Regions from separate parts of the Homo sapiens genome. Here region 1 is linked to region 2. A link means that fine-mapping ties the variant in region 2 to the plasma level of a protein whose gene starts in the linked region. Region 2 holds a variant in brackets. A gene starts in the other region. All regions are shown on their reverse strands. Region 1 holds the start of MEPE (matrix extracellular phosphoglycoprotein). Region 2 overlaps TGFB2 (transforming growth factor beta 2).

What was found. A credible set is the group of variants that fine-mapping cannot tell apart. PIP is the posterior inclusion probability: the model's chance that the variant is causal. Protein levels are from antibody-based Olink assays in UK Biobank. Linkage for the fine-mapping came from a reference panel and not from the study's own genotypes, which makes the PIPs less certain.
Region 1: MEPE starts here. The variant in region 2 is the best candidate, but not a certain one, in a credible set for the plasma level of the MEPE protein (UK Biobank, PIP 0.90).

What each region holds. Positions count from the first base shown.
Region 1 is chr4:87,822,092-87,838,539 of GRCh38, reverse strand. MEPE (matrix extracellular phosphoglycoprotein) reads right to left here and starts at 5,571. Exons shown (of 4, transcript NM_020203.6): 1 at 5,526-5,571; 2 at 3,772-3,837. The coding sequence starts at 3,825.
Region 2 is chr1:218,420,998-218,435,835 of GRCh38, reverse strand. TGFB2 (transforming growth factor beta 2) reads right to left here. Exons shown (of 7, transcript NM_003238.6): 3 at 1,622-1,754; 4 at 1,388-1,498. Among named protein-coding and RNA genes, the nearest start is that of TGFB2-OT1, 14 kb to the left of the region's middle. The variant C/G (reference allele first, on the strand shown) is at 1,646.

The DNA.
Region 1 (16,448 bases), not on the chromosome of region 2:
GAGTTGTATTATTCACTGTGGAAAATCATTCTAACCAAAAGAAGATTGACACACTCATCGCATTAATATAATATTTGTTTCAATATTACGAAAGACAGTGCCAGCTTTCTGCCCCCAGAGGGAGACAGTGCCGTCTCCACTACAGAACTGGATTCAAGCTCAGACAACCGCTAAGTGGGTGTGGTGGGGGAGTAGGGAGGGATGGCACCCCAGACGAAGGAGCTTGGCTGCCATCAGAATCCACTGAAAAAGAAGTTTTCACTGGCAAACTGGGAGTTGTTAAATATAAGTGAACTAAAATCAGAGTTTGACGATTTAAATTGTGTGTGTGCATTAATTATATAAGTTGAGTAACTGTAATATTGAATTAAGATATGATGCTGCTGATGGCCCAGGGAGAGTCAAACCATAGCCGTTCATGTGAATGGTAGGATCGCAATTAAGGACAAAAACTTATTGCTGCCAGATGTTACATTCTGAGAAGGAAAAATGGAGGTGGCCAGCAGATTAGGATAAATTCTGTTTCTTGGTTTGACATAAAGTGTCAAAATTTCTTGAGGGTAGCGTAGGGTGAGGGGTAGCTATTGAAGCGCAGAAAGGGCAGAAATGAAGAAAGAACAGACCTCGGCAGTTTGTCCCAGTCCTTTGGGCTGAAGTTTGCATACCACAGGAAAGCACACAGAACAGGGACCCTAAAATCTGAGAGCAACTGTTTTATTAAAGGAATAGATGTAAGTTCTTTAATTCTCAGTATTTTTCATTTACCTCTTTCTTTCAGAAACTCCTAGCCTATCTCAGATGTGGCACTGGGAACCAATGGGCGGACTGGGCCGTGTTTGAATGGGTGTGCTACAGTGGAAGCAGGCATCATGGTGGATCAATCATATAAAAGAGAGAACCCCTTAAGGGAAAGATTGAATAAAGAGATAAACAGAAAGAGGGCCGCCTAGGCCAGCTGTCCTATTTACCTGGAAAGTGTTCTTCCTGAAGAAGCCTTAAGCTTCTATATTTTGTTTAATACAGACAGGTTGTTGCTTGCACTAAGATATTGGGAATGCCCCTGCTTGCTCTCAGCTCCTTTGTATCTCCAGCTCAATCTGAACTGATTCCTTCATTTCCCAAGCTCATTTGCCCTCTGTGTTCAGACTGGGTTTGGGTGAAGGAGGCCTGGCATGAGTCTGGAGGGGGGGAAGGAGAGAGAAGCCAGGGTATGTCCTTCTCTACTCTCCGTGTTTGGGGCTGCATCTCTAGAGTTGGGTACATCTCCTTTGTGGTCCTAGTTCCCCCAGCCAGGGGCCTAGGAGCAGCACCTTTTTTTTTCCTTCCAGCCCTAAGCCTGGTAATAGCTTCGATCCTTGGGTGGTCTCACCACCCCTGGTTGGCTTTTCTGTTCTTCCTTATACTTTATAGCTAGCTTCCCTTAGAAAGTCGCTCTACTGAGCTCCCTGTAGTGGATTTTGTTTTCTGGACTGGACTCTGGCAGATAAAATCATCTTCAAAATATAAAACTCAGAAGTTTAGAAAGCACCTCCATGGCTGGACTCCAAGGCATAGCTGCCTAATATTCAATTCCATTCTAGAAAATAACAATAGTTTATCAATAACACCTTCTATTTATAGGACTCTTTATAGTTTGTAAACTGCTTTTGTACTTATAATCTCATATGAGTCCCAAAGTAACCTTTATAAGATGAGCAGTAGAAGAAACAGAAGTGCCTACACTCATAGTTGGTAGTTGCAGTAGAAGTAGAGAAGATATTTTAATTTAAATCTTCTGCCTCAAAGTCCCAGGGTTAAAATAATAAATTTTTGAATGATTAAATATGAAAAAGCATTTAGTAATAAGAGGAAATGTTCCTAAACTTTATATTAATTATCGTCAAGGCATCTTTTATAGTTTTATCCTTTATTGCATTTCTTATGTTGATTCTTATATGATCATGTGAATATAAATTTGGACAATTATATCACTCTTCAAAAATATAAAACCAGGGCAAACAGTTCTGGAAATTGGACTATAGGAAGAAGAAAGCATAAAAATGAGATGGGCAGATATTAAGCAAAAGAAAGAAATGATAGTATGGGGTGTCAGGGATCTTCTTACAGAACACACACACACACACACATATGGATTAGAAACATACTTGACAATATAGAGTACCTCGGTACAGTTTTGATTTATTGTGACTTATAACAAAGTCTTTCTAGTCTAACTGCATCTTGATGAATATTAACCGAATTGCATAGCCTAATAAACATTCATTTTCTTCCTTTTAAAAATCATTTAGAATTTGGCTTATAATTCTAAGACGTATGCAAGTGGCTGAGTATATACTAATTTCTTAAGCCACCAATCTATCATTTAAAAATTCAGGTAATTACTAAAATGGCATCTATATACCTGGAAGAAAACATCATATTTAATGATTCACAGTTACAAATGTTGCCTCTGCATCCTTGCTGAGCTGCTTTCATTTGAAATACGCATCCCTCCCTTGTCCCCTCTATACCCCCAAGCAGATGTCTTAGGCTTGAATGTGGCCCTGTAATGGAGATGGCATTGTCTGCCTCTGGGCAGGAAAGCTGGCATCCTCTTCTGATCAGTGGTCACTGAATCAATGTTGACATAGCACATTTACTGGAAAATGATGAGAAAGCCCCACTCCAGCTGCTTCTTGGAACATGTTGCTCAAAATAAAATCTTCAGCTGGCCAACTTGAGCTAGGTCAGCAAGACTCATTTTTCCACCGTGAGAGGTGGGAGAGGCACCTGAGCCTCTAGGCCTTGATTGAGTGAGGTCTGTGCATGGGGTCTCGCAAATGTGTGTTGTGAGCAGTACAGCCTCCACAGTACTGTACTGCACACCCTTGTTGCACAGAGTGTGTGCGGAGAAGGGAACACATTTCCCCAACTTCCACTGCCCTCCATGAGGCCCTCTGCTTCCCTGGTCATCCTCATCAGCCTGGTTACCCTAGCAGTCACCCACTCACTCAGGACCTATATATAAGTATGATTGGCAATGGGATGACTATTTGTTTCCATGGTTCTCCAACCAAAAAGGTTATTCTGATAAGTTAGGATGCTGCTCAGACATTATCTAATTAGCACTGTGTCTGCATTGCAGAAAATAACTAACACTCAGCATTTTCACAAGATAATTTGGTCACATCCTGAATATTCAACTGGGTGAGTCAGAGGGAAGAAAAGACACACAAGGAAGTAGGAGCTTGATTTGGGTTAAGCTTGGAGGTACTACGTCCCACCTCTAGCCTCGCTGATGAAGAGAAAATCACAAGTAGGATCCCACAGTATTGGGGTGTTGCAAGAAATACAGAAGAGTTCTTGTCTCTTTGCATTTTTATCTATTTACTAAATCTAGCTGGTTAGCTTTAAAACATTCATGTCAAATTCTTTAAGTTTACAGGAAAATAGTCAAAGATTATTTTACCATGTTATAATTTGAGTCTTTGAGTATCACTCATTAGTATCAGCTGATTTGAAATGCTGCGGCTGCCTCTTGGTTTTCTCAAAAAATCTGTTTTTGGTGTTCCTTAAAAGACAATGTTGTCAGATCTCATAATTCAGCACATGTTTATTGAGAACCTCCTTTGTTAAGAGTGTTAAGTGCTAGATGCTTTCTGTTTGCTTGGTTCTTTTTAAAATAACTGAATTAGGTAGATGCTACTAATTTAAATAGACGTTGCTTGAAAGAAAAACAAATGAAGAGAGCAAGAGATTATCTGAAATATAATTGAATTTGTAAATACTTACTGGTGCTGCCCAGGTCACACTGAAAAGGAGTAGTCCCACACAGAAAACTCGCATCTTTGAGAATCTCTGTAAAAAGACAACAATATCTTACCACAAAGCATTGCCAGTTATAAACTGCAGCCATAAGAAGAGATAAAACACATAGGAATATATAAACACCCTTCCCCTTGGCAGTTCATATCCTTTTGTGTATGTGTGTGTATAGACTATGTATAACTTGCTTATACCCGAGTGTGGACATTTTAAGAACTTTCATATGTCTAGTTATTCCAATGTGAAAATGAAAATTATTCAATATCATTAAAACAGTAAAGTCAGTTGATAGAAATATATTTTATAGACACATTTATTTGCTCTATCATCAGCTCTTCTTCCTCTTGTCTTTAGAAAGAGATTGTTTAATTATTTGTGTAATTCAAAATGACATTAAGTTGATGTAGCAGCTCATAACACACTCTAAGTTTGTCAGGGTAGCAGATTGCACTGTGAGGAAAGCTTATCTGCCTCCGGGCTGGTGCCCTAATCTGTGTCTCATGTTCATTAGCAATGTGTCTGAATTAGTAGCCATCCATGGGCTGGAGAGTGAACTAATTTTTGCAACACTGACATTAATGGCTAACATTTATTGAATACTAAAATGAGCCAAGCACTGGGTCTAAGAATTTTGCATGCATTCAATTATTTGAGCCTCACAACAACCCTACAAGTTAGGCGGCGTTACTATGCCTGTTGTATAGATTAGGAAATAGACACAAAAAGATCAAATAACTTGCTTTAGAATTCACAAATATTAAGGGGCAGAACTGGGATTAGTATCCAGGCAATGTGGCTCTAGACCCAGTTTTCTTCATCAAGACTCTCTGCCACCTTAAATAACTTTCTATTCTTTTATCTTATTACAGAAAAATCCATGTACAGTTGACTTAAAGGCAAATCATATTTTATATTGGGCTCAACAAAATGATGTTCAAAATACTAACATTTAGTTACAAATAAAGGTATTTGTTTATATTTTGGTAAATATACCAACAGGAACTAGTGAGCTCACTTAAGTAGCCATTAGATTGGAAAAAAGTCAACATGTCTTTGGACTATTGATCTTATTATTATATTGTGAAAACAATAAATTTATGCCACTCTGAGATTTCTTGAAGAAAAACTTGTTTTTATGGGAAAAAATAATCTAAATATTCTTGCAATCTTTAAACACCTCAAGGAAAAGCTGGTATTTGGAGAAATGATTGTAACTATTAAATATATTCTAAAATCCTAGGCTATGTTTTTCTAAATTAATGCAATTAGAAGGATCTAAATTCTAACTATAGTTTACCCTTCCAAGCATTTTATAGATCAGGACAACGTAAGTAACTTATGAAATGAGTTAATGCTCATCAGTAGAAATATCAACACAGATGAGGTTTCAAAGTATGAATAAGATCAGATTTTCCTGATTGCAGTTTGTTAAGTGAAGGGATAGAAGAAAACTGAAGTCTGAGTTACTGTGGATCTTGATAATGCTAATAACAAAAAAAAAGAGAAAGTTGCTATCAAATCATCAATTTTAGTTGATGATTTCTAGAGCATGGTAACGCATTTCCTATTTTATAAAACAAAGCACCAAATATTACACAGTTTTGCTCAGTAGAGAAGATTTTCAAAAGTAATAAAACCATACTTGGGTGGCAAGCATCTTAAAAACGTAAACAACTATGATATAAAGCTATTTGCTGTCAAGAACATGAAAGCCAAATTACCTGGTATCTTTCACCTTCAGAATACCTGGCTTCTTGTTGCAGGATTAGAAGTCTCTGGGCATTTTGCTGAAATTTAAAGTTTGTTAGAGTTCCCAATGGCCAATCAGCACTGGCTCACTCAGCGCTAGCAAACAATTTGTTACAAGCGCCCACAGATAACCATAGGGGGTGAAGTAATTTTAATCTAAAAATGTGTTTGTGGTAGAAAGCTACTATCAAATGTTCCAGAAAGTGGGATAAACAGAAAATATAAATACCTCAGTTTGGACATCATGTTGTCAGATAATCAAAATTGATTTCAGAACTGCTAATTAGGACTGACTGAATACCTAACAAGTTTAGAAATGGAAAACATTTTTGCTATCCTTTTATGTAGAAAGTTTATGATGTCAATTTTATCTAAGTGAAATTCAGCAACATTTAACAAAAATGTTTTAGGTGCCTACTGTGTGACAGGCATTGGCGAAACTGCAGTGAACAAAACAAGACAGAAAAAAATCCCTGTCTTCCTGGAGCTTAGAATCCAATAAGGGAGACAGATAATAAACAAGATAAATGAGTTAAATAGATTAGATAGTGACATATACTAAGTCTAAGGAGAAAAAGTATTGTTGGGGAGTAACAAGCATTGGGGGTGGGGACACTGGGTTGAAATTTTAGATAGGAAGTCCTGGGAAGGCCTCAATGAGAAGGCAACTTTTGAGTAAAGACCTTGTTATGGTTTCAATGTACGTGTCCCTCCAAAATTCCCATGTTAGAACTTAAACCCAAGGTGACAGTATTGAGAGATGGGCTCTTTAGAAGGTGATTAAGTCATGAAGGCAGACCCCAGTATGAATGGGATTAATGACCTTATAAAAGGGCAAGAAGAAACTAGCTAGTCCCTTTTTGCCCTTCTGCTTGTCTGCAGTGTGAAGACACAGCATTTGTCCCCTCTGGAGATGCAGTAGCAAGGTGCCAAATTGGAAGAAGAGATAGACAGCCCTCGTCAGGCAATGAACATGCTGGCCTCTTCATTGCGGAATTCCCAGCCTCCAGAACTGTGTGAAATAAATTTCTGTTTTTTATAAATTACCCAGTCTGTGGTATTCTGTAGTAGCAGCATGAACAGACTCAGATAAGCCTGCAGCCATATGACTGTCTATGGGAAGACCATTCCAGGAAGAAGAAATAAGAAAAATAGTGCCCCAGAAATAAAAGCCTTGTGACTTGTTCCAGGAACAGAGAAGAGGCCACTTTGGTTGGAGGCCTGAGCAAGGGGAATAGCAACAAATGAGGTCAGAAGGGTATTAGATGGCAGATGGTATAGGACCTGTAGGTCATTGCAATGCTTTTGACATTGCTATGAGTGAGAAGAAAAGTCCTTGGAGGTTTTAAGCACAGGCATGATTGAGGAGTGACTGAAGTAGGAAAAAGGCAGAGAGAATGGCTAGGAAGCTCTTGTAATAATCCCAGCCAGAGATGATGGAGGCTTGAACCTGAGTGCGGCAGAAGGGATGATGAGACGTGGTCATATTCTGAAGAAGTTTGGGGAAAAATGGTAATAGGATTTGCTGAGGTACCAGATGTGGCCTGTGAGAAAACAATCAAGAATCAGGATGACACCAAGGTTTTGACCTGAGCAACTGGAAGAGTAAAGTTGATTTTTTCTTCATATTGGAAAAAATGCAGAAGAAAATGGTTTTGAGGAAAATATTGTGAGTTTGGATTTAGACAAATTTTATAAGATGGACAATTTAAGACACTCAATTTCTTAATGAAACAAGTAACAAACCTATACTAGAATAAGCCTTTCCAGTGCGATTGCCTGCTCTCTTGTTTTGCCCAAACTGGCTACCAAAATAATTGTAATAGTTTGAGAGGTTCCACTTAATATAAAAATATTATAATACCTGTAAAGGTCATTGACATTATGACTATATATTAAAGCATCAATAAGAAATTATGTAAGAGTTATTTAACCTATACTTTGTGATAAGAACTACCTACAGTGAAACACACCTTTAACAGTTGTATATTATATATACAAATGATATATAATAAGATTTAAGTGTAAACTGTCAATTTATCTCAACCCTCCAAATAGACAAAAACCAAAACATAAAACACAAACAAAACAGTATTTCATAAGTTCTACCTGAGAAAATGGTGCCTTTTCTAGGTCAAGCTAACTCTCTCTTTTTTTTTTTTTATCATATCTAAATTCTGCTGTTCCTCTTTTGAGTATCCAGAGCTGCTTTTCCTCCTCTCCCTCACCTCATGTCTTCTTGTTAAAAAAATTTTTATTTAGGTTTGGAGGTACATGTGAAGGTTCATTACATAGATAAACACATGTCCCTGGGGTTTGTTGTACATATTACTACATCACCCAGGTATTAAGCTCAGTACCCAATAGTTATCTTTTCTGTTCCTCTCCTTCTTCCCACCCTTCACCCTCAAGTAGACCCCAATGTCTGTTGTTTCCTTCTTTGTGTTCATAAGTTCTTATCATTTAGCTCCCACTTATAAGTGAGAACATGTGGTATTTGGTTTTCTGTTCCTGCGTTAGTTTGCTGAAGATAATGGCCTCCAGCTCCAGCCATGTTCCCACAAAGGACATGATCTCTTTCATTTTTATAGCTGCATAATATTCCATGGTGTATACATACCACATTTTCTTTATCCAGTCTGTCACTGATAGGCATTTAAGTTGATTCCATGTCTTTCCCATTGTGAACAGGGCTGCAATGAACAGCCGTGTGCATGTGTCTTTATGGAAGAATGTGTTATATTCCTCCGGGTATATACCCAGTAATGGGATTACTGGATCAAACAGTAGTTCTGCTTTTACAGAACTGCTTTTAAGAACATCTTCCAGGACTAGGTTTGAGCTATTGGGTGGGGCCACTGTTGACTTACAACCATTCAAGCATAGATTTTAGAATATTTGAATATTGTCATTGACAGTGGAAATATTGAACTCTAGAACTCTAGTAGCTTTGGAGGCAAACAGACTTGAGTTCAAATCCTGACTCTACCACCTGTTTACTGTGGCAAGTTGATTAAACAACTAATTTGAACTTTTCTGTGCCTCAGTTTCTCCAACTGAAAATAAGGAGCACAGTATCCATGACCAGAATTTCAGCAAAGTCCAAAAAAAAAAAAAAAAAGGATTTGGGTGATATAGAAAGGAGCTAACAAGGGAATGGAAGTCAAGGAAGGAAAGAAGGCAACAAAGAGTGTTCAGCCAACTCTGAGACTGAATGGAAATATAGAGCTTTCTAAATGGAAGACAAGTGAAATCCACAAAAAATGCTCATTTTCAACTTTGGATATGCTATTGAAGCAATAAATAATTCAGGAATTTCTATAATAATGTGTATATAATGCAGTGTTTTAAGCTGTTACACTGTTTCATAACATTAACTTTATATTTTGAATGATCCAGTTATAGAGCAAACACTTGATATGTGCCTTAGGAAATGTTCATTTTTTTATTGCTATAATTTTATAAATAATTTCAGATATTCCTCAAATGCATTTTTCTTAGTTTCAAATAAATTTCAGTGTGCATGAAAAAGATTTCCCTTTCATTTGAGTGATGGAAAATTAATTATGATCTAGAAAAACCTGTGTTCTAGGATAAGAAAATTTATAGAGTTTTAAGAGAAAAAAACTGGCTTAGCTACTAGTCCTACCAAGGGGTGAACTGGCAGTAGCTAAATATACTGCTCTCAAAGCTAAAATGAATTCAAAGCTACATAAAAAAATTCAACTTGAGTTTTAAATTTAGAACCTACAATTGACAAAAGCAAAAAAAAATGAGAGCCTATTCTGGCTAGAAGGTTGCAGAGAAGAAATTCTGGGGAAAAAAAATTAGGAGAATGATCCTTTGCCTAAGTTCCATGCAGTAGAGATTTTTACTTCTACCCTCTTAAAACTTGCCCTCTGTGTTGAAATTGAACTTCAAAAACTCAATATAAGTTTCCTAAAGGTTATTGTATAATAGAGAGTTTTGCCATGGCATTTCTAAGGAACCAATAACTGAAGTTAAAACCAGGAGTCTGTAAAAAAAATATGTATCTTCACACCATCTCTATTTAACTGGAAAACAAAACAAAACAAAGAAAAATGGGAAACAACTGAGAAGGGAAAGAAATGGACACTTGAACTTTTTTCTGGTTCCTCGTTCCTGGTTCAAAAATGGACACCTCCACCAATGATGCACCTAGCCTGACTTTGCTGGGTCAGACTGACACACAGAGTTGCTCCTCAAAGAGAATCTGGAAGGAAGTACTCCATGGAACATGCTTCATCCTGTCGTGGGTTTTTCATTTCTTATCGATCACTTGAGTGTGAACAATCATATAAAATGCTAGCTAACTAGGAACCTATACTATCAGTTCCAGCTATTAGACTCTCACCCAGGAATAAGGCTTTTTTGTTTGTTTGTTTTATTTTCTCATCTATTTCTAGGACCCATCTTTTCTGTACTTGTGCTCTGGGATTAATTGCTTTGGTATACATTTTTTTTTAAACTTAGTATTCTAGGAAGTCCTTTTTCCCCTGCTATCATGGTCCCCAATTTATTCTTGACTCTATTAAGGTAACACATTTCTCTGTCATCATTTTAGACAGACTCACACAATACACTTTTCCATATGTTCTAACTAAAATAAGTTTCTGTTTTACATATACAATATACTTTTCTGTATGTTCTAACTTGCCAAAATAACTCTCTATCTTCTAATTTACATACATTACAAATATACAGTATTTCCCCTCCTGGATCAGTGGGGAAGTCTTTGAAGTGTTGTGAATAGAACAGAGGGGTCCATGTTGAGTAATCTCTTCTTTACCATACAGATGCTTAGATTGGTCAAGGCTTTAGGCATTTCATAGAAGTATTTACTTCCCACTGATATCCAAAATAAGAGTCCAGAATGAGTGTGCTGGGAGTCTTGCCCTGTTTTTAGCAGAAGGAATGTTTTCATTTTAAACGTGTTCATTCATGAGTATCAATAATCATCCTAAGCTCAAAAAGGTCACCTTTTCTAAAGCATCACTTACAACCAACTTTCTCCTTTACCCTCAAATTAATTTTATTTTTAGTTATTATTTTTTCTGTCAGCATTTGGGAATTTCAACAGAAGCCATAAAAATTTCAGCCAGATGCAGAATCATGGAGGGTCACAGCAGAGCATGAAGTTAGCTGTGTTCATTCCTCTGGGCTTTTTGTTTACCCATTCCTCTATTACAAGCAAAGAGAAGACATGTCAATATAATTTGCTTTTATTTTTATATTAGAGAGATGTCTTACTCCACCTTAAAATGTAACTCAGAGGATGTAGTTAAAATATAATTATAATGATGCTAGCCCTTTCCTTCAGGACATGGTGACATTGCTGGAAGTGGCTGCAAAACTTTGTTGTGTGACCTCAAGAGGAAAATATCTCTTACCCTCATAATAGTCTTTTTCAGAGGTTGCTGTTTTGTTTTTCAAGACCAAGAATCTTCTTCTCAGGATACAGAACTTGAGGACTTTTACCAGCTAGCTATTCATTGTATCGAACATGTATTAATATTTTCTTACCAAATTAGGGTGTATATCGTCTTAGCTTATTTTTAATTCCATGTTTATCTGCATTGTGTTATCATTTTATTTTATCTCTTTTTTCATGAATTCCTTAATTCTCACCAACCCAGATTTTCTCTATGCTTGTCAGTTCCTGTTCCAGTTATCTGTTGCTATAAACATACCACCTTAAAACTTTTCGTAGTTTGAAATACAAATTCACTGTTTTCTCTCAAGGTTCTGTGTGTTGACTTGGCTCAGCTGCATGATTCTCACTTGTGATTTCTCAAATGGCACAGTCAGAGATGGGGTGCAAGAGTCATCCCAAAACTTGACTGAGCTGCACATCCGATATGCCACAGTGCTTCTCCACATGATCACTCTGTCCTGCAGAATAGGCTGGACTTCCTATATGGTAGCTCAGGATTTAAAATGCTCAGTCAGAAATGGGATCTAATTAAACTAAAGAGCTTCTGCACAGCAAAAGAATCTATCATCCGAGTGAATAGACAACCCACAGAATGGGAAAAAATGTTTGCAATCTATCCATCTGACAAAGGTCTAATATCCAGAGTCTATAAGAAACTTAAACAAATTTACAAGAAAAAAACAAAAACCAACAGCCCCATTAAAAAGTGGGGAAAGAACATAATTAGACACTTTAGAAAAGAAGACATACATGTGGCCAGCAAATACGTGAAAAAAAGCTCAACATCCCCACTGATCATTACAGAAATGCAAATCAAAACCACAATGAGATACCATCTCACACGTCACAATTACTATTATTAAAAAGTCAAAAAAACAACAGATGTTGGTGAGGCTGCAGATAAAAAGGAATGCTTTTACACTGTTGGTGGGAGTATAAATTAGTTAACCATTGTGGAAGACAGTGTGGCAATTCCTCAAAGACCTAGAGGCAGAAATACCACTTGACCCAGCAATCCCATTACTGGGTATATATCCAAAGGAATGTAGCAGATCACGAGGTCAAGAGATCGAGACCATCCTGGCCAACATGTTGAAACCCCATCTCTAGCAAAAAAAAACAAAAACAAAAAACAAAAACAAAAAAAAAAACTGTTGTGGTGGTGTGCACCTGCAGTCCTAGCTACTTGGGAGGCTAAGGCAGGAGAATCCCTTGAACCCGGGAGGCAGAGGTTGTAGTGAGTGGAAATCATGGCACTGCACCCCTGCCTGATGACAGCGTAAGACTCTGTCTCAAAAAAAAAAAAAGAATATAAAGAATATAAAGCATTCTATTATAAAGAAACATGCACATGTATGTTTATTGCAGCACTATTCACAATAGCAAAGACATGAATGTGCATCAATGATATACTGGATAAAGAAAATGATATAAATGCCCATCAATGATATACTGGATAAAGAAAATGTGGCATGTGTACACCATGGAATACTATGCAGCCATAAAAAAGAATGAGATCATGTCCTCTGCAGGGACATCGATGGAGCCAGAAGCCATTATCCCCAGCAAACCAATGCAGGAACAGAAAACCAAATACTGCACGTTCTCACTTATAAGTGGGAGTTGAATAATGAGAACACATGGACACAGGGAGGGGAAAAACACACACTGGGGCCTGTTGGAGGTGGGGTATCAGGAATAATAGCTAATGCATGCTGGGCTTGATACCTAGGCGATAGGAGGTACTGTGCAGTAAATCACCATGACACACATTTACCTGCGTTAACAAACCCGCACATCCTGCGCATGTACAGACCTTAAAAGTTGAAGAAAAAAAGATAGTCGGTTAAAAATTAATTAACTGGATTTGTTGGTCTAAGAATAAAAGTTTCCATGCAAATTGAAAGCAGAGATTGACAGGCTAGTTTTATGGCCTAAGCCTGGGACTGTTGCACAGTTACTCTCCACTTGTTCGTCAAAACTGTCAGATTGAAGCGGGTGCAGAAATAGGCCTCACACCTTGATGGAGAAGTGGCAGCCTCACATTGCAGAATAGCTTGAGGAATGGGAGATAACGTTTCAGTCATTTTTGGAGAATACAGTGTGCCTAAGACATACCCCGGGTGTAATTCAGGTATTGGGCATTCACTGACAGTTATTCTCAGAATGTTTGGTGTACTGGATTTGATCATGGCCCATTTTATGTAGCAGGAGTAATGGTTGTGCTGTTGATTTTACAGAACTAACCTACAGCTAGAACCAAGATCAAGCTTCCCCTCAGCTGGCTAAGAGGTGAGACATACCTGATCATTCTTGTTACAGAATTTTGAAAGACAGTATAGTGAAAAAGTTACCTTTAAATATTATTTATCAAAGATAATACTTCTTGCTGTGCCTAGGTCCTGGAACTGTCAGAAACATCTCATCAAATAGCTGCAGAGGGTGGATTGCTTGAGCCAGAGATGGAGACTAGCCTCAGCAGCATGGCAAAACCTTGTCTACTAGAAAATACAAAAATTACCCTGGTGTGGTGGTGCACACCTGTAGTCCCAGCTCTTGGGGCCGCTGAGGCAGGAGGATCACCTGAGCCTGGGAGGTCGAGCCTGCAGTGAGCTGTGATTGCACCACTGCACTCCAGCCTGGGTGACAGAGCAAGACCCTGTCTCAAAAAATAAAACTAATACATAAATATGTAGCTGCAGAAAGGAGAAAATCCTCAGGTTGCTCTATCAAACATCAGAAATGTTCCTGAGTTTTTAAACAAAGTTTGAAGCAAAGGACAAAGCTTCAAATTGAAAACAAACAAACAAAAAAAACACAAAGAAAAGAGAAAAAGATACAATTTATCTCTTAAGTGATTAATGACAACAACATTTTCAAAATGATCATAGTTTATACAATCATCTAAAAGGGGATCAGTGAACTATGGCCTGTGGGCCAAATCTGACTCATCACCTGTTTTGGCAGATAAAGTTTTATTGGAACACAGTCATGTTCATTTGTTTACGAATTGTCTATGGCTGCTTTCACTACAGTGTCAGAGTTGAGTAATTGTGACAGAAACCATATAGCCTGCAAAGCAATCCACCCTCTGCAGCTATTTGATGTTTCTGACAGTTCCAGGACCTAGGCACAGCAAGAAGTATTATCTTTGATAAATAATATTTAAAGGTAACTTTTTCACTATACTGTCTTTCAGAATTCTGTAACAAGAATGATCAGGTATGTCTCACCACTTAGCCAGCTGAGGGGAAGCTTGATCTTGGTTCTAGCTGTAGGTTAGTTCTGTAAAATCGACAGCACAAATTCTGCAAAGCCAAGAATACTTTCTATCTGGTCTTTTAAAAAAGAAGTTTGCTGACTTTTGCTTTTTAGTGAAAGCTTGCTGACCCCTTATTAAAATAGTGAGGGCAGAATTTATATTTTAAAAAGAGATAAGATGAATTCTGTACATATTAATGGTGGTCTTATCTTCCTGGACCCTGGGAACCATGAGATACAAGGGAGAAGCCTCCTGAGAAAGACCAGGATGTAACAGAATGTAATTTGCATGAGAACCTTTATTCTTCAACCAACAAATCAAGTTAATGAGTTTCTAACCCACTAAGTATTTTAAAGAGCTAGGGCAGAAAATATTTGCTACACTGTACATGGATAAACAAAATGTCCAAGTCATTGCTTCATGGTTTACTTTCAATTGATGTTGATTCTTTTTTTTAACCCGAGATTCATGTTTCTTTACTTTAGATTTTCCTTTTCAAAAGAAAAGGAAAAAAGTGTGTATGCTTTTCTGCCTTTCTCACACTTCCACTATTTGTTCTCCTCATCATTCAAAGAGATCCACTTTGCCTGGAGAAGGATTGGAGTTTTTGACAGAAAGGATCCAAATGAAAAGAAAGTCAACATTTGTTTTCTTACTGCTGAAATAGACTCTTGAAGCCCGCATCAGAAACAATCATTTTGAAAGCTAAAGCTTTAGTTTTGCAAAAGTATTGTTTGTTTTACCTTTTTGGTTAAAGAAAGCGTGGTAGAAAATCAACATGGCCAACTATGAAGGATGCAGGGCATAGAATTTATGTCACAATAATAAACTGAAAAGGAGAGGGATATTTAGTGAGCCTCACAGATTAAAGATGGGTCCCCTCTGCTATCCTGTCTGCTACCAGCTGCAGAGGATATTGATTGAGTCATCGTGTTGAAGGAGGTAAGAAGGACTTGAAATGAGAGGACAAAATACAGGGTGATCCTGGGAAAAGGGCAGAGTCATCTTTGAGAAGCAGTTACACTGTGGCCACGCTGATACCTACAGACCATCCACCCACACAGTGGGTGAGCAGCCATTGAGCACACCACTGCCTGGCGAGGTCCTGCATGTCTACCATGAATTATCTTGTAAGAGTCACCCTCTTTGATGCGTCAAAAGCTTTTTTTAGCCAGTCCACACTCCTATGTGGCCAGCCTCCTTCTGAAACGTCCAGGACACTCAATGCTTCCCAAACTTTGAGATCTGGAAGAGGTATTCAGGGGAGCTGCTCTGCTGCAACTTCCTGACAACCTTGCACAACTCCATACCAACCATGTCTTTATGGATTACATATGGGACCAGAATTGACTGCAGTACAACCTGAGTCTTGGCAAAGTACCCTGCAATTCCTCCTGCAGCAGGAAAGGATAAGCAAGCTGGTGAAGAGATGCCATGGGCAGTTCCCACCCACCTCCCTACCTTGTGGAAGATGACCACAAGGCCATTTCTCATTCGTCTCTTTAGTTTCAGTTGAGCACAGGACTTTTGACCTTGCTCCCTTAGGGTTCAACTGCAGACTTCTTTGTGAGTATACCTATTTGGCTAAGGGGTAGAGCTGACTCCTCAGTAGCAGAACGACCTACCACCTGTGCCATCTGTCATCTGGCCTCTCTGTTCAGTGTCATTCTATGGAATTAGAGATGCAGGGAGCTGACACCATACAGGTGATGCTTATGTTTTTTGTGTATGTAATAAAATGTCTGACTGTATTTGACTTCATGGTCCCCCTACTGGCTGAATCTGTGGAAGTGTGGTGTGTGAACCTAGCAGCTGCATTCAGGAGCTTCGTAACCCAGTTACCAACCACACTGCTGCCCGGGGACCACTTAATTGCTTGACGGGTTGTGAGTGGGAAAGTCCTGGGAGTCTGCACTTGGGTAGAAGTGGAGATTACAAAACCCACCCCAATTATCCAAGTTACTCAAAACTAGATGGGTTATCCTGGAAAGCATGATGAGTCAGGTGATTGGGCTTCCCACTAGCTTAAAAATATGAAATAATACGCCAATCAAAAGACTCTGAGACTAAGCACTGAGTGTTGAGTGGAAGTTCTACTGCCAAGAAGGAAATCCATTTCAACCAAGAGAGGATAGACTTTGGGAGGTAAGACTTGGCGGGAAAGTCGGGTGAGACATT
Region 2 (14,838 bases):
TTCCCCATGGAAATAGATATGGCACAACAGGACTACGACTAACCCACGTGACAATTAACACTTCTAAATGGGGCTCTTGTCAGAAGGCAGTTCGGTGTCAAAGCCAGGGCTGTTGGTTATGAAAGTCACTACAGAAGCAGTCTTTGACCTATAGTCCAAGGGCAATCTAGGCAGTTTATTTTAGTCAATCCTCAGTTTAGGCTGCGTTCAAGCCCTCAACAACTGAACACATGGCAATAGAACATGCCTTGTCACCCGCTGGTTCACACTCTTCCTAAGACTACTAAACTCAAAAGACTTTCCTAATGAACATAAACTGAGACTTAACTGAATTGGAGTGAATTAGGTTCAAGTGAAACAGAAGTCACCCTTACCTAATGCTATTTTGGGAAGCTGTGAAGAAAGGGCTTTTTCATTTATTTTATGGCATCCTCAACACTTTCCTGATTCCATCTGAGATTTAGAAACTTGAGCTCCCCAAAGCATGCTCAAGAGACTGCCAGTTTAAGCATTTAATCTCCACACTCCAGAGAATCATGACTAGGTTAGAGACTGAAATAAATCTCTAGACCTCTGGGAGTATTTTTCCATGAGCAAGGGCTGCTGTAGTCTTCTAAAAGTGGATGGAGGTCCTGGGTGATGTTAGGAGGGCAGGGAAATCAATTCTCTGGCCTGGCATTGTGGGCAGATGCTGTATCGGCACATAGGCATGGATTTCCTCTCACCTCTCATCATCCAACAACTCATCATCTAATACATGAAGTGACTTGAGCCCTTGGTATCGCCTCACTCTCCATGACTTTTGTCCAACTTACTTAAAGGTAAGCGTGGGGAAAGCCAAAACATTTTTATGTGTTTATAAACTAATATAAAATTCTGATAAGGAACCCACTTGAAATACTGGGTATGGACTAGAAAAGGTGGAATGTTCTTATACATGGAAGGTTAGTTATGGAAGCTGTAGCAGGAGGAGACTCCTTTCTTCTGTGAAATACGGTTGTCAGTTCCTGACATTTGGTTTGGGGGATTATCAATGAATTTTCTTAAACACATTCTATCTTTCTCTATAATATCAGTATAGATGGAAAGTTGGTTTGCTACAATGAAGAACAAAGGCCTTAACTTACTACTGGAGGGTTAATGAGTTAATCAGTTATTATTGACCAAGTCATCACTGGGCATTGAGAATTATAAACTGGGAACCTATTCCGTTCTTCCAATCCTTTCTCCCTTCACATATGTATATCCAACCATATCACTGTCCAAATGAATGAAACTCCCCAGGCCTTACCAGTCTCATTTTCACATGCAAACTGATTTTATCCCCCATGAGATTATCAATATAGACCCTTCCCTCCCCCACCTCATATGACCAAGTTTTGGTTACCTGCAAATCTTGCTTCTAGTTCTTCACTTTTATTTGGGATGATGTAATTATTAGATGGTACAAAAGTGCAGCAGGGACAGTGTAAGCTTATTTTAAATCCCAGGTTCCTGTCTGGAAAACATTAAGTCAAGGAGGTCATTTGTATGTGTGTCTATACCCTTAAATCTGCAATCAATTTAAAGTAACTTAGGGATACTGAACATCTTGGGAGGAAAAGAGAGAGTGGCTTGTAACCTTTATGGTGAAGCCATTCATGAA[C/G]AGCATCAGTTACATCGAAGGAGAGCCATTCGCCTTCTGCTCTTGTTTTCACAACTTTGCTGTCGATGTAGCGCTGGGTTGGAGATGTTAAATCTTTGGACTTGAGAATCTGGAGGGGAAAAAGAGCAAGAGAAAAGGCTGAGTTGGCATTCTGACAGCATGACTAAACCAAAACTATTAACAGTGTTCTAATTCATTACCTAAATTTAGCTCTACTGTAGTATAGCCATGCATTGTCATCTCAATTGCATGGTCACATGCATAAAAACACAACACCAGGCTATTTGCCATGAAAAAATAGCTACTAAATCAGCTGCATGTTATGATAAAGGTGACAGGAACCATAAAGCCAAGTGTCTAAAAGAAAGTGACAGTAATTATTTTACTTTGCTGACATAAGCTTTGCAAGATTTCAGCCATAAATTCTATGCTATTAAGTTAATGGTTTTCTTGTTCTGCTTCCCTACTTATTTAATTTGGGGAGTTGGGGTACAGGAAGGGACAAGAGGAGAAGTCCAGTTCAGAGGACCCAGGCTCACTCTCAAAGGCCCTGAATTATAAATCTCCTTCTAATAAAGAAAGAACGGTCCTAACCTTGGTTTCCAAATCCATTGCCATTAAAATATGTGTCATGCCTCAGCTTTTGAGGTAAGTCCCTAGCTGGGATATTTTACTCTTAATGTGATTTGTTATGATTTATAAAGGTATTCCATCCCCTGCAGACTCAGAATGAATCTCAGCAGAAGTAGTTTGGTATGGTGCATAGATGAATATCTGAAAGCAAACCAGCCTAAACACTGAGGCTTTAGGAAGATGTATTTATCTCAGGCTGGGCGTGGTGGCTCACCGTAATCCCAGCACTTTGGGAGGCTGAGTTGGACGGATCACTTGAAGTCAGGAGTTCAAGACCAGCCTGGCCAACATGGTAAAACCCTGTCTCTACTAAACACAAAAATTAGCCAGGCACAGTGGTGGGCGCCTGTAATCCCAGCTACTCGGGAGGCTGAAGCAGGACAATCACCCGAACCCGGGAGACGGAGGTTGCAGTGAGCCGAGGTGGCATTACTGCACTCCAGCCTGGGTGACAGAGTGGGATTGCCTCTCAAAAACAAAAAAAATAAAGAAAAAGTTAACATTTCAAGAAAGGTGTATTTATCTCAAATGAGTAAAGCGCAACTGTAGTATGTTCCTAGGTTTCGAAAGGAAGTGAATATTTTAGGTGGTTTTAAAAAAATTCTATTTTGAAATGATAGTGGTTTTAGGAACTAAATCATGATTCTAAGTCTACTATAGTAAATCCCTACTGAAACCCTGTATGCTGCCTTTCCTCAGTACTTAGGGGTTCAAGCTGTCATTTTTGTACTACTCTTCCGGATTTTTGTACTACTCTGTTTTGTGGTCATTCCATACCTATGGGCTTGGTCTCTCCAGCAAATTCATAAAACTTCCCAGGTCAGGGATCATGTCTTCAATTTGATATCGTTTCAAACCATAGCACTCAATTGAATCAATATCTATTAAATGTTTATTTCAGTATCTAGAAGATTTATTAACTATCCTTTAAACCTTGTAAAACAAAAATGCATCATCTTTCCACTCATCTGAAAATGTACTTTCCTTCCATGTGTGTACATGATTTGTTTCAGGTAATTTGGCAACAGACGCTTCCTAAAATACTTGCCATAATGGTAGACTTTTTTCTGGATTAAGTAAATATAGAAAAGGAAGGAGATTCATACAATTAGACCCTTGGGTGCCCTCATGAATTTTACACAAGACTTATTCTACAGATCTGCCCCTGTGGTCCAAAACCTCCACTAAAAGAAGAGAATGTGGAGGCAACAATGGCTCTATGATAGGTAAGAAATGTTCTTTGCGAATTAAAGAAAGCAGATAAACATGACTTGAGGGCTGGGTACACTACGCTCTGGGCTTGGCATGCATTATTTTATTTTATTTAATCCTCAAAATGTTCCTGTAGGGTAGATTAAGGAAGCAAACTCAAGGAGGTTAACTAACTTGCCCAATGCCTCCCAGTGAACAAGTGTGAAGAGATGATCCAACTCAATCCCGAGTCATTTTCCCACTTCAGTGCTGGATTTTTAAAGGCCAAACAAGTTATTGAGTCAAGAAAACATTCAATGACAGAGGCAAAGATTTTTAAATAAGATTAAAATAAATGCTGGTACAAGATGAAAATATAAGATAGTGGAACGTATACACAATGAATGTTGGCATAAAGCTACAGCTTTAAAGATACAGCTTAATAGCAGTCCATCTCCTAGGAATCAAACCTTGCCTTGAAAATACTCCCAGTTGGGAAAGTAAGACATCACTTATCTAATTCTGAATAAATGGTATAATTAACCTACTATGGAACAGGAATAAGAAAAACAATGGTTGAGAAGCAGTTTTCAGGCATTCTGATCTGCCTCATTGACTAAAAACTGGTAACATTCACAGAACTCATCGTTTTGTCTCTAAATTCTTCCCCTAGCTAATCTGCAACAGTGCATTTTTACAAAATGCTTTGCATATTTCTGTGCTGCTAATTAGCACAGTGTATTATCTTATTCACATAGCTAACATTTAGACATACTACCTAGAACTAAACATTGTCTCCATTGCTGAATTAATTACTTATGATATACATGTCAAATGTCTATGACATATACATACATATACATGTATATATGTGTGTATATATATGTCCAGTTTCACTAAAGACACAGAATTTTTAAAAATTATGGCCATATCGACCAAATAAGCAGAAAAGACACATAATGCCAAATCTATATAAATCTTCCACCTTATAGAAAAGGAGTACATTTAGATTATCTTACTTGGAAAGAGTCCAAAGAGCAGCAAAGAGACTCTGAAGCTTTTTCTCTTTTAAATCCTACTAGGAGAACTACGATAAGAGCTTCCTCAACCACAGAGCACTGGTAGGCTCAGAAAACAGACAATCTCATCCTCTCACTTGGGTGAAAGGTCCTCTGGATCTTTTTCACTAGCTCCAGACTCATGAACAGGCCACATATAAACCACCCAAGAAATACAGTTAGTTAGCTACATAATTCTCAAACACAGTAGCGACTTTTGTCTGGTGGATTTGTTGTCTTGAACTTCATGGCCAAAGAGTTCTTAACCCACTTGTTGCATGTTAACTCCATTCTTCTTATCCAGTCCTTAGTGGAAACAGGAAACAGCTGCTTTCCATCACTCAGAGAATATCCCTCATATTCTTGGAGACTATGATTAAGTCCCCCTCAGCGTGCTTGCTTGCTTTCTCTAAACTAAATAAACCCAGTTCCTTTAGACCATATTTAAAGGTGTAATTTCCCAAACCTTTAATCATTTGGGTTGCTAACAAGGATGAATGATGCTATATAAAAGTATTCCTCCTACAGCTTCATGATTTTGCTTCAGAACTATCTAGAAAACCTTCTAATCACATCGTAAAGTCTTGAATCTTAACTTGAAAGGTATCTTCTTCCTAAGAATAGGCACAACCTCACTATCCTCTGTTTATCTCCCATTTATCACCCACACTAAATTGAACTGTAAGAGAAGAAGGCATGGAAAATCAACCTGCTGCTTACATTCAAAAGTTTATACAGGAAGTGACCAGATCAGTCAACTTCCCATTCTATTTTAGCCTTTGCTGTCTGTCTTTCTCAGGTCTCCAAACAACAAGAGTATTGAATGTTAGTAGTTGTGGATATGTAGCTGTTAATTGTTTTTCTAGATTCATGAGTCATTTGCTTCTAAATTTCTTTATACTTTTTTTTTTTTTGAGACAGGGTCTCACTCTATCACCCAGGTTGGAGTACAGTGGTGTGATCTTGGCTCACTGCAACCTCCGCCTCCAGGGTTCAAGTGATTCTCTCGCCTCAGACTCCGGAGTAGCTGGGACTACAGGTGTGCGCCACCCATGCCCGGCTAATTTTTTATATTTTTAGTAGAGACGGGGTTTTGCCATGTTGCCCAGGCTGGTCTCGAGCCACCCACCTCAGCCTCCCAAAGTGCTAGGATTACAGGCTTGAGCTACCACGCCCGGCCTCTTTATGTATCTTATCATGACAAAGATAATTTAGTTGAATAGTAGAAGCTCTCTTAACTGGCCTCCCCTTAACTGGCCAGAGTAACCAGCATTCTCCATTAATTCTGTGTTTTATAATATATATTGGCTGATGCCCAAAGCACACTGGGGATCATTGGGGAAAGTTACTCTCCAAGCACTTCCACTCTTACCAGTTGAGTTGTATGCTTAACAAATATCAATTTTATACATTTCTTTTTTTCCCTAGAAAGCATGAAATGATATACATTTCTAAACCTGCTTATGACACTTGGACTTGTTATTGTAATTATGCAAGTTAATTAAATGGTCTAGAAACTGATGAAATGCAGGACCAAAAGTAAAGAGAGCTGTTTCTTCTCCGAAAGCCAGTTGACTGTCTTGGAAAGTCTTCATAAAGACAAGTTCCTATAGGAAAGAAAGTTTTTTGGAAAACAGTTTGCTAGTTCCTCAAAAAGGCAAACATTGAATTACCCCATGATCCAGAAATTCCATTCTTAAGATATATAGCCAAAAGAACTGAAAGCTGGCACTCAAGCAATACTTATACATCAATGTTCATAGCAGCATTACTCACAATAGTCAAAAGGTGGGAAAAAATTCAAGTACTCATCAAGAGATGAATGCATAAACAAAATGTAGTACACTCATCCACTAAGATATTATTCAGCCATAAGAAAGAATAAAATTCAGACACATGCTACATGACATGGATGAACTCTGAGGATTATGCTAAGTGAAATAAGCTGACACAGAAGGACAAATATTGTGATTCCACTTACAAAAGGTACTTTAAATAGGCAAATTCATAGAGATAAAAAGCAGAATAGGCCAGGCACAGTGGCTCACGCCTGTAATCCCAGCTCTTTGGGAGGCCAAGGCAGGTGGATTACCTGAGGTCAGGAGTTTGAGACCAGCCTGGCCAACATGGTGAAACCCCGTCTCTATTAAAAATACAAAAATTAGCTGGGTGTTGTGGCACACACCTGTAATCCCAGCTACTCGGGAGACTGAGGCAGGAAAATTGCTTGAGCCCAGGAGGCGGAGGTTGCAGTGAGCTGAGATCGTGCCACTGCACTCCAGCCTGGCTGACAGAGCAAGACTCTGTCTCAGAAAAAAAAAAAAAAAAAAAAAAAAGATGCTCATGGATAGGGAGAATCAATATCGTGAAAATGGCCATACTGCCCAAGGTAATTTATAGATTCAGTGCCATCCCCATCAAGCTACCAGTGGCTTTCTTCACAGAATTGGAAAAAACTACTTTAAAGTTCATATGGAACCAAAAAAGAGCCCACATTGCCAAGACAAACCTAAGCCAAAAGAACAAAGCTGGAAGCATCATGCTACCTGACTTCAAACTATACTACAAGGCTACAGTAACCAAAAAAGCATGGTGCTGGTACCAAAACAGAGATATAGATCAATGGAACAGAACAGAGCCCTCAGAAATAACACCACACATCTACGACCATCTGATCTTTGACAAACCTGACAAAAACAAGAAATGGAGAAAGGATTCCCTATTTAATAAATGGTGCTGGGAAAACTGGCTAGCCATATGTAGAAAGCTGAAATTGGATCCCTTCCTTACACCTTATACAAAAATTAATTCAAGATGGATTAAAGACTTAAATGTTAGACCTAAAACCATAAAAGCCCTAGAAGAAAACCCAGGCAATACCATTCAGGACATGGGCATGGGCAAGGACTTCATGTCTAAAACACCAAAAGCAATGGCAACAAAAGCCAAAATTGGCAAATGGGATCTAATTAAACTAAAGAGCTTCTGCACAGCAAAAAGAAACTACCATCAAAGTGAACAGGCAACCTACAGAATGGGAGAAAATTTTTGCAATCTACCCATCTGACAAAGGGCTAATATCCAGAATCTACAAAGAACTTAAACAAATTTACAAGAAAAAATCAAACAACCCCATCAAAAAGTAGGCAAAGGATATGAACAGACACTTCTCAAAAGAAGACATTTATGCAGCCAACAGATACATGAAAAAATGCTCATCATCACTGGCCATCAGAGAAATGCAAATCAAAACCACAATGAGATACCATCTCACACCAGTTAGAATGGCAGTCATTAAAAAGTCAGGAAACAACAGGTGCTGGAGAGGATGTGGAGAAATAGGAACACTTTTACACTGTTGGTGGGACTGTAAACTAGTTCAACCATTGTGGAAGACAGTGTGGCAATTCCTCAAGGGTCTAGAAGTAGAAATACCATTTGACCCAGCCATCCCATTACTGGGTATATACCCAAAGGATTATAAATCATGCTGCTATAAAGACACATGCACACGAATGTTTATTGCGGCACTATTCACAATAGCAAAGACTTGGAACCAACCCAAATGCCCATCAATGATAGACTGGATTAAGAAAATGTGGCACATATACACCATGGAATACTACACAGTCAAAAAAAGGATGAGTTCATGTCTTCTGTAGGGACATGGATGAAGCTAGAAACCATCATTCTCAGCAAACTATCGCAAGGACAGAAAACCAAACACCGCATGTTCTCACTCATAGGTGGGAATTGAACAATGAGAACACTTGGACACAGGAAGGGGAACATCACACACTGGGGCTTGTCCTGAGGTGGGGGGAGAGGGGAGGGATAGCATTAGGAGATATACCTAATGTAAATGACAAGTTAATGGGTGCAGCACACCAACATGGCACATGTATACATATGTAACAAACCTGCACATTGTGCACATGTACCCTAGAACTTAAAGTATAATAATAAAATAAATAAATAAGAAGAAAAAAAAGAAGCAGAATAGAGGTTAGAGGTTAGTAGGGGTGTAGAAGGTAATTAGAAGGTATTGTTTAATGGGTACAGAGTTTCTGCTGGCGATAAAAAAAGTTCTAGAAATGGATAGTGGTGATGGCTATACAATATTGTGGTGAATGTACTTAATGCTGCTGACTTGTATACTTAAAGGATGGTTAAACTGTAATGTTTATATTATGTATATTTTATCACAATAATTTTTTTTCTAATTTTAGGTGTGAGAGAGACAGCTACAGAAGAAATAATACGATAAAAAGTTAGAAGAATCCTACACTCAGGTTGCTCAGCAATTGTCCTTAAACATCTCTACTTCAGAAAAATAAAAATAGAAATTGTAGATGATGCACTATAAATGTGATTTATACAAAACAAAATGACATGGATTGGTAATTGGCACATCCATGTCAAAGAAAAGTCCTTGGCCTTTCACAAAAAGAACTCAGCCTCAGCATGTGAATGTGTATGTATACATCCATATGTACATACATATATATTTGTTTTAAGTTTTAAAAATTTAAGGTTTGCATCTCTCTCTTTCTGTTTCTCTCTCCTATGTTTTTCTAATCCCTGGCTTTAACTGATTTTTTAATCTTTAACTGACCAACAACTGTTTCTGATTGAATTAGAAAAGGGGGCTTCTCATGTATTAAAAATAAGATTTAGCTGTCTTTGGCTTAGCTGCCACCCACAGTGATGTTTGAATGCCACCTTCATTACATTACTGATATATAATCATTAGATATAATATGTGTGAAATACCCACATATCGCCTTCAGCAAGGCTCCAAGCTCTTCATTGAATTACACAACTCCCTACACAAAAGCATCCATTCATTTCTCTGCCATTGGAAAGCAGCCAACTGGGCAGTGGATAAAGGTGAAAGTCACTGATGTTACCCAATAGTTTGAGGGGGGAAAAAACAAGTAGAAGTCTAGATGCAAAATTATAGCCAGAAGAAATCTTAACCTTAAAATAAAAATGCTGTAAAACAACTCAGGACTTGGGTTAGACACTAAGGGCAACATCTCTTACACGTCTATGAGACATTGCAAAGAGTTATAAGAAAGCATTGGGAATTCAATGTTACTTTCCAAATTCATACATCAACAGATCCACAGGAGACCATGGGGCTATTCAATCAGACTTCTAATGCAAAGGGAATTTAACTATAGTGCTGTAGAGAAAAATTGACACCAGGTTCATTAGTGTGGGCCCATCTTGTTTTTAAATGCATTTAATGTTTTTAACGCTTTAAATATGTTTAATCATTAAATATCTTTAAGTGTGTTCAGTGTTTAAATGTATTTAAATGTTTTAAATGTTTGCAGTGACTTGCAAGTAGTGATGAACAAATGATGAATCAAACATTCACTCTGCTGGCTGTGAGCACGAGTCTCTCAGATCTGCCTGACCTCAAGTCATTCACTTCAGCATTATGAAATACTGGCATTGGCAAGGCACTTTGAAACCATCTGCTTCAATCCCATACAGTTCATTCTCTAACATCTCTTTGTCTAAAGGCCTCTCATGACCGTGAACTCACTATTTAATGAGAAAGGTCGTCCCCCTTTTGGACAATCCATATTGTTGAGATTCTCCATTATCTTGGACTTAAAATTTCCATCAACTAGTCTTCCTTAATAATAGCGCCATTGCCTCATATTTGTACAACCATTGTAGTTTTTCAAATATTTGAACTTTTTGCCATGTTTTTAGCCCTTCACAGAAATCTTGTGGGATGAACATCATGGCCCTTATTATCTGCATTCTAAAAGAAACAGAAGACCAGGTCGGGCACGGTGGCTCACATCTGTAATCCTAGCACTTTGGGAGGCTGAGGTGGGCAGATTATGAGGTCAGGAGATCAAGACCATCCTGGCTAACACGGTGAAATCCCGTCTCTACTAAAAATACAAAAAATTAGCCGGGCGTGGTGGCTGGCACCTGTAATCCCAGCTACTCGGGAGGCTGAGGCAGGAGAATGGCGTGAACCCAGGAGACGGAGCTTGTGGTGAGCCGAGAACACACCACTGCACTCCAGCCTCCGTGATGGAGCAAGACTCCAACTAAATAAAAAACAAAAACAAACAAACAAACAAACAAAAAACGGAAGCCTGAAGCACTTAGGTGTGTTAACAAAGCCCTTCAGGAAGAGCCTGGACTAATGTCTTTCCCTCTTAATACCAGTGGAGAAGGCTTTCCAATATTGTTTTTCGCCCTCTGGAGCAAGATGTAAAATTCTTTCTTTTCCATGTCAGGCTCTAGTCACAAGAGGTGGCTTCCCTCAACTGATCCCTTTAAGGCAAAAGTTCAAGGTGTGTCACCATCCTTGTTAAAACCCTTTCCAATGTCTTCTTAAAATTAGTTCCTCAACAAACTCCAGATATGGTCTAACAGAATATGGAGATATACAGAACCTGTCAAATGTGAAGAGGGGAGTAGCTATTGCTTCCCTTGTTCTGGTCACTACTTTTAATGCAAACTATTTACTTTTGGCAGCAGCCACAACACATCATTGAGTCACAGAAATTTTTTTGTAAAATAAAACCTTTGTTCTTATTCACAAACTGTTGTTAAGTCAGATTTTTCCACTCCAAATCCTTTCTGGAATGAGGTGGAATAAAGAGAAAGAAATAATGCAAAGCAAGAAGGGAGGAGGGTTGGTCTTTCTAGCCCAGTGGTCTCCAATGTTAGCCTGCTTCAGAAACATCTGGAGTGCTCATTAACACAGATTGCTAAGCCCCATCCCCAGAGCCTCTGATTTAATAGGATGAGGTGGAGGCCCAAGAATCTGCATTTCTAACAAGTTCCCAGGTGATGTAGAAGCTGCTAACCAGGGATTACTCTGAGAACCACTGCTGTAGCCTGTATTTATATAATTCATTTTTCAAACATAAATGCAAATTACACATATATATCTGTTAATGTTGAACTCTATTATCTGACCCAAGTTTTAGCCTTTTGGAATCTCTCTGAATTTTCAGTTTGCTATTCAATGTATAAGCTACTCTTCGGAGCCACAGAGCACTAGCAACAGTGCAGCCAATGTCTTCATCATGTTGGTGATAACAATGTTAAAATCATAAGGCCAAAACCAGAACCTGTTGCTGGCTTCTTAGTTACCTCCTTCCTGGTGGCCATTTCTGAAATCAACACTCTGTGATATGCAGGGTATACAGCAGAAAAAAGTGGAATTTCACTCATTGACTAAGGGTCCTGGCCATCTGGGCCACCTGACAATCAATCCATTCCATTTACTCAGTGGTCCCTTAGAGTTCTTTGAAGAAGCCATAGGGCTGTGCCAAGTGCCTTTGAAAATCATTAGCGTAGCGAAAAGGTGCAGAGGCTTTGGAGTCAGACAAGCCTAAACTATGGCTTACTGGATCTATAATTCTCTCATCAATGAAAAGGAATAGTAAAACGCACCTTGTATGTTTGTCGAGAAAATTAAGTGTCACGGAGTAGGGAGAGCATCAGTCACATTGCCTGGTATTCAATACGTGTGAGTTATTGTTATGATTATGTTCCCTACCTTGTCAAAAACTTTCAGAGGCTTCTAATGCCTAGTGAATAAACTCCAGATTCCTTAGTTCAGTATTGATAACACAACTGGCCACCAACCTATCATCTCACACGCGCCTTTCATCCCTAGAAGCCTAATCTAAACAATATCTCTAAAACATGGATTATATACTCCAAACTTCCAAACTTTGGCTTCTAACTAGCAACCCTATCAGAATGCCTTTCCCTCCTCCAGTTTTCTCCTAAAAAACAAAACAAAACAAGCCTTTCCACTCTTCTAATCCAAACTTGAAGCCCAGTTTTTCAATGACATGCTTACTTTCACTCTAAACTAAAGTCAGGTCCCTTTCCCTAGTTCCCCATGCAATGCTACGGGATTTGCTGAGCATGTGGTCCCTTGCGCATAGTGGCTTCAAGGGTAATCCTGGATGTGTGGAAATGTCCATTTCCTCCAATAGAATATTAAGCCCATACAAGAGAGAGGGAAACATAAACTTATTTAAATCCCCACAAACCCTTATATTTTGGTTTGCTGACACTGGTAGAATACATATTCATTGATTAATTTTGGAGAAATCTGACTCTCTAGGTCAAAACCGTGTTATTAAAGACCAAGATTTTCTCTCAGGCAGACAGGCACAGAGAACACACTCTTGTGAGCATTTCTTGGCTTACCTACAGCAGGAACAAATGATTCTCCAACACATCACTCCCACATCCATACTCTGGAAGGCTTTCATTGGCTTTGGAGGAGCCTTTTACCCTCATTCAAAGTAATAATAATAACTAATAATATTCAAATATTTAATATGATCAGTTAATTTGTTTGTTCAGTCATTCATTCATTGCCGAGCATCTTGTATGCACTTGAGTCCTCATTTATTCATTTGTTTGATTTTATTTTATACCTCACTTCCTCCAGTTTAGTTCAACAAATATTAAGCACTGGCTGTAAGCAAAGCATTGCATTATACGTATACCCCAGGATAATAAGATGGTGCCTGTTCTTAAAGGAGTGCATTGGGTAGTAAGGGAATATAGACATCTCAACAAAAACTTAAAACGATGTGTTCATAGGTTACCAGGAAATGTTACAGGCAGGGCATCTATCCTTGCCAGGTAGATGAGGTCAGGGAAGATTTCCTGTAGAGAGGAGAGTGTAAAAGGATGACTATGAACATCCAAAAAACCAGCACTAAGAGAACACAGTCCAGGTAATAGGGATGTGCTGGTTCATTAGAAGGGAGAACAAGGCCAGGCGTGGTGCCTCACGCCTGTAATCTCAGCACTATGGGACGCTGAGATGGAAGGATCGTTTGAGCCCAGAAGTTTGAGACCAGTCTGAGCAACATAATGAGACCTCACCTCTATGAAAACATTTTTAAAAATTAGCTGGACATGGTGGTGCACATCTGTAGTCCCAGTTACTCAAAAGGCTGGGGCAGGAGGATCTGTTGAGCCTGGGAGGTTGAGGCTGCAGCGAGCCAAGATTGTACCACTGCATTCCAGCCTGGGTGACAGAGCGAGACTCTGTCAAAAACAAAAAAAAAGAAAACAAAAAAACAAAAAAAACAAGAAGAAAGAAAGAAAGAAGGAAGGAAGGAAGGCATCCTCCTCTCTCTTCAGTGCCCTTTTATCTTTTCTAACAATATATACTAGGATTTAGGGAGAGTTGGCTTGATAGGTGTATGGGTAACCTAGAACTGTAGTAACAAAGTACCACAAACTGGGTGACTTATAACACTAACTTATCCTGTCACAAATCTGGGGGCTAGAAGTCTGAAATCACGGTGTTGGCTGGGCCATGATCTCTCTGACGCCTCCAGGGAGGATCCTTCTTTGCCTCTTCTAGCATCTGGTGGTTTGCTGGCAATTTTTGGTGTTCCTTGGCTATAGTTGCATAGCTTCAATTTCTGCCTTCATCTTCACATGGCAGGCTCCCTGTGACTGAGTCTTCACATGGCTGTCTTTTTATAAGGACACCAGTCATACTGGATTAGGGACCCACCCTCCTGCAGGATGACCTCATCTCAACTAATTATATCTGCAATGAGCCTATTTTCAAATCAGATCACATTCCAAAGTACTGGGGATTATGACTTCAACATATCTTTTTTTTATGTGTAGGGGAAGGGACACAATCCCACTTCTAACAGTAGTGATTCATAAATTATACTGTGGGGAGTATAATGCTCAATCTAACTATGAGCTCCTTCAAAGCAAAAAATGTTCTTTCTCTCTCTTATTACCCCCACAGAGTATTTTTCATGGCAGCTTACCCAATCCCTGCTTGGTATATTCTTATTAGTTAACAGACTTCATTAGAAAGACACATTTGATCAAGTGACAAATAAGCCCCTGAACAATCGGTCTTTTATAGTGATAAAAAAAAAAAAAAACTGCTTCTTGGAATTTTAAACACATCCAGAAACCCACCACAGAGATTATATATATCAAGAAGGACAGAAAGAATTATCAGACAGAATAAGCAATTTAATACTGTATTTTACCCTTTCTATTTATTTCATTATAAAAATGAAATGAGGGAGAGAAAGCAAGAAAGAGAATTTCCAAATAATAGCCAGTGGAGCTTTATAGAGAATCAGAACTGGGTACAGTGGCTTTTATTTCAAGGAGGCACAAATGGAGCTCTCTCTTCCTGTCTAACTGTAGCCTCCTTGATTATGCTGGGTCACTTTGGGGGTGCCTACCACACCGACACACTGCATGATTATCCTTCAGAAGTGGCTTAACACACCCAGTACTTACCTTGCT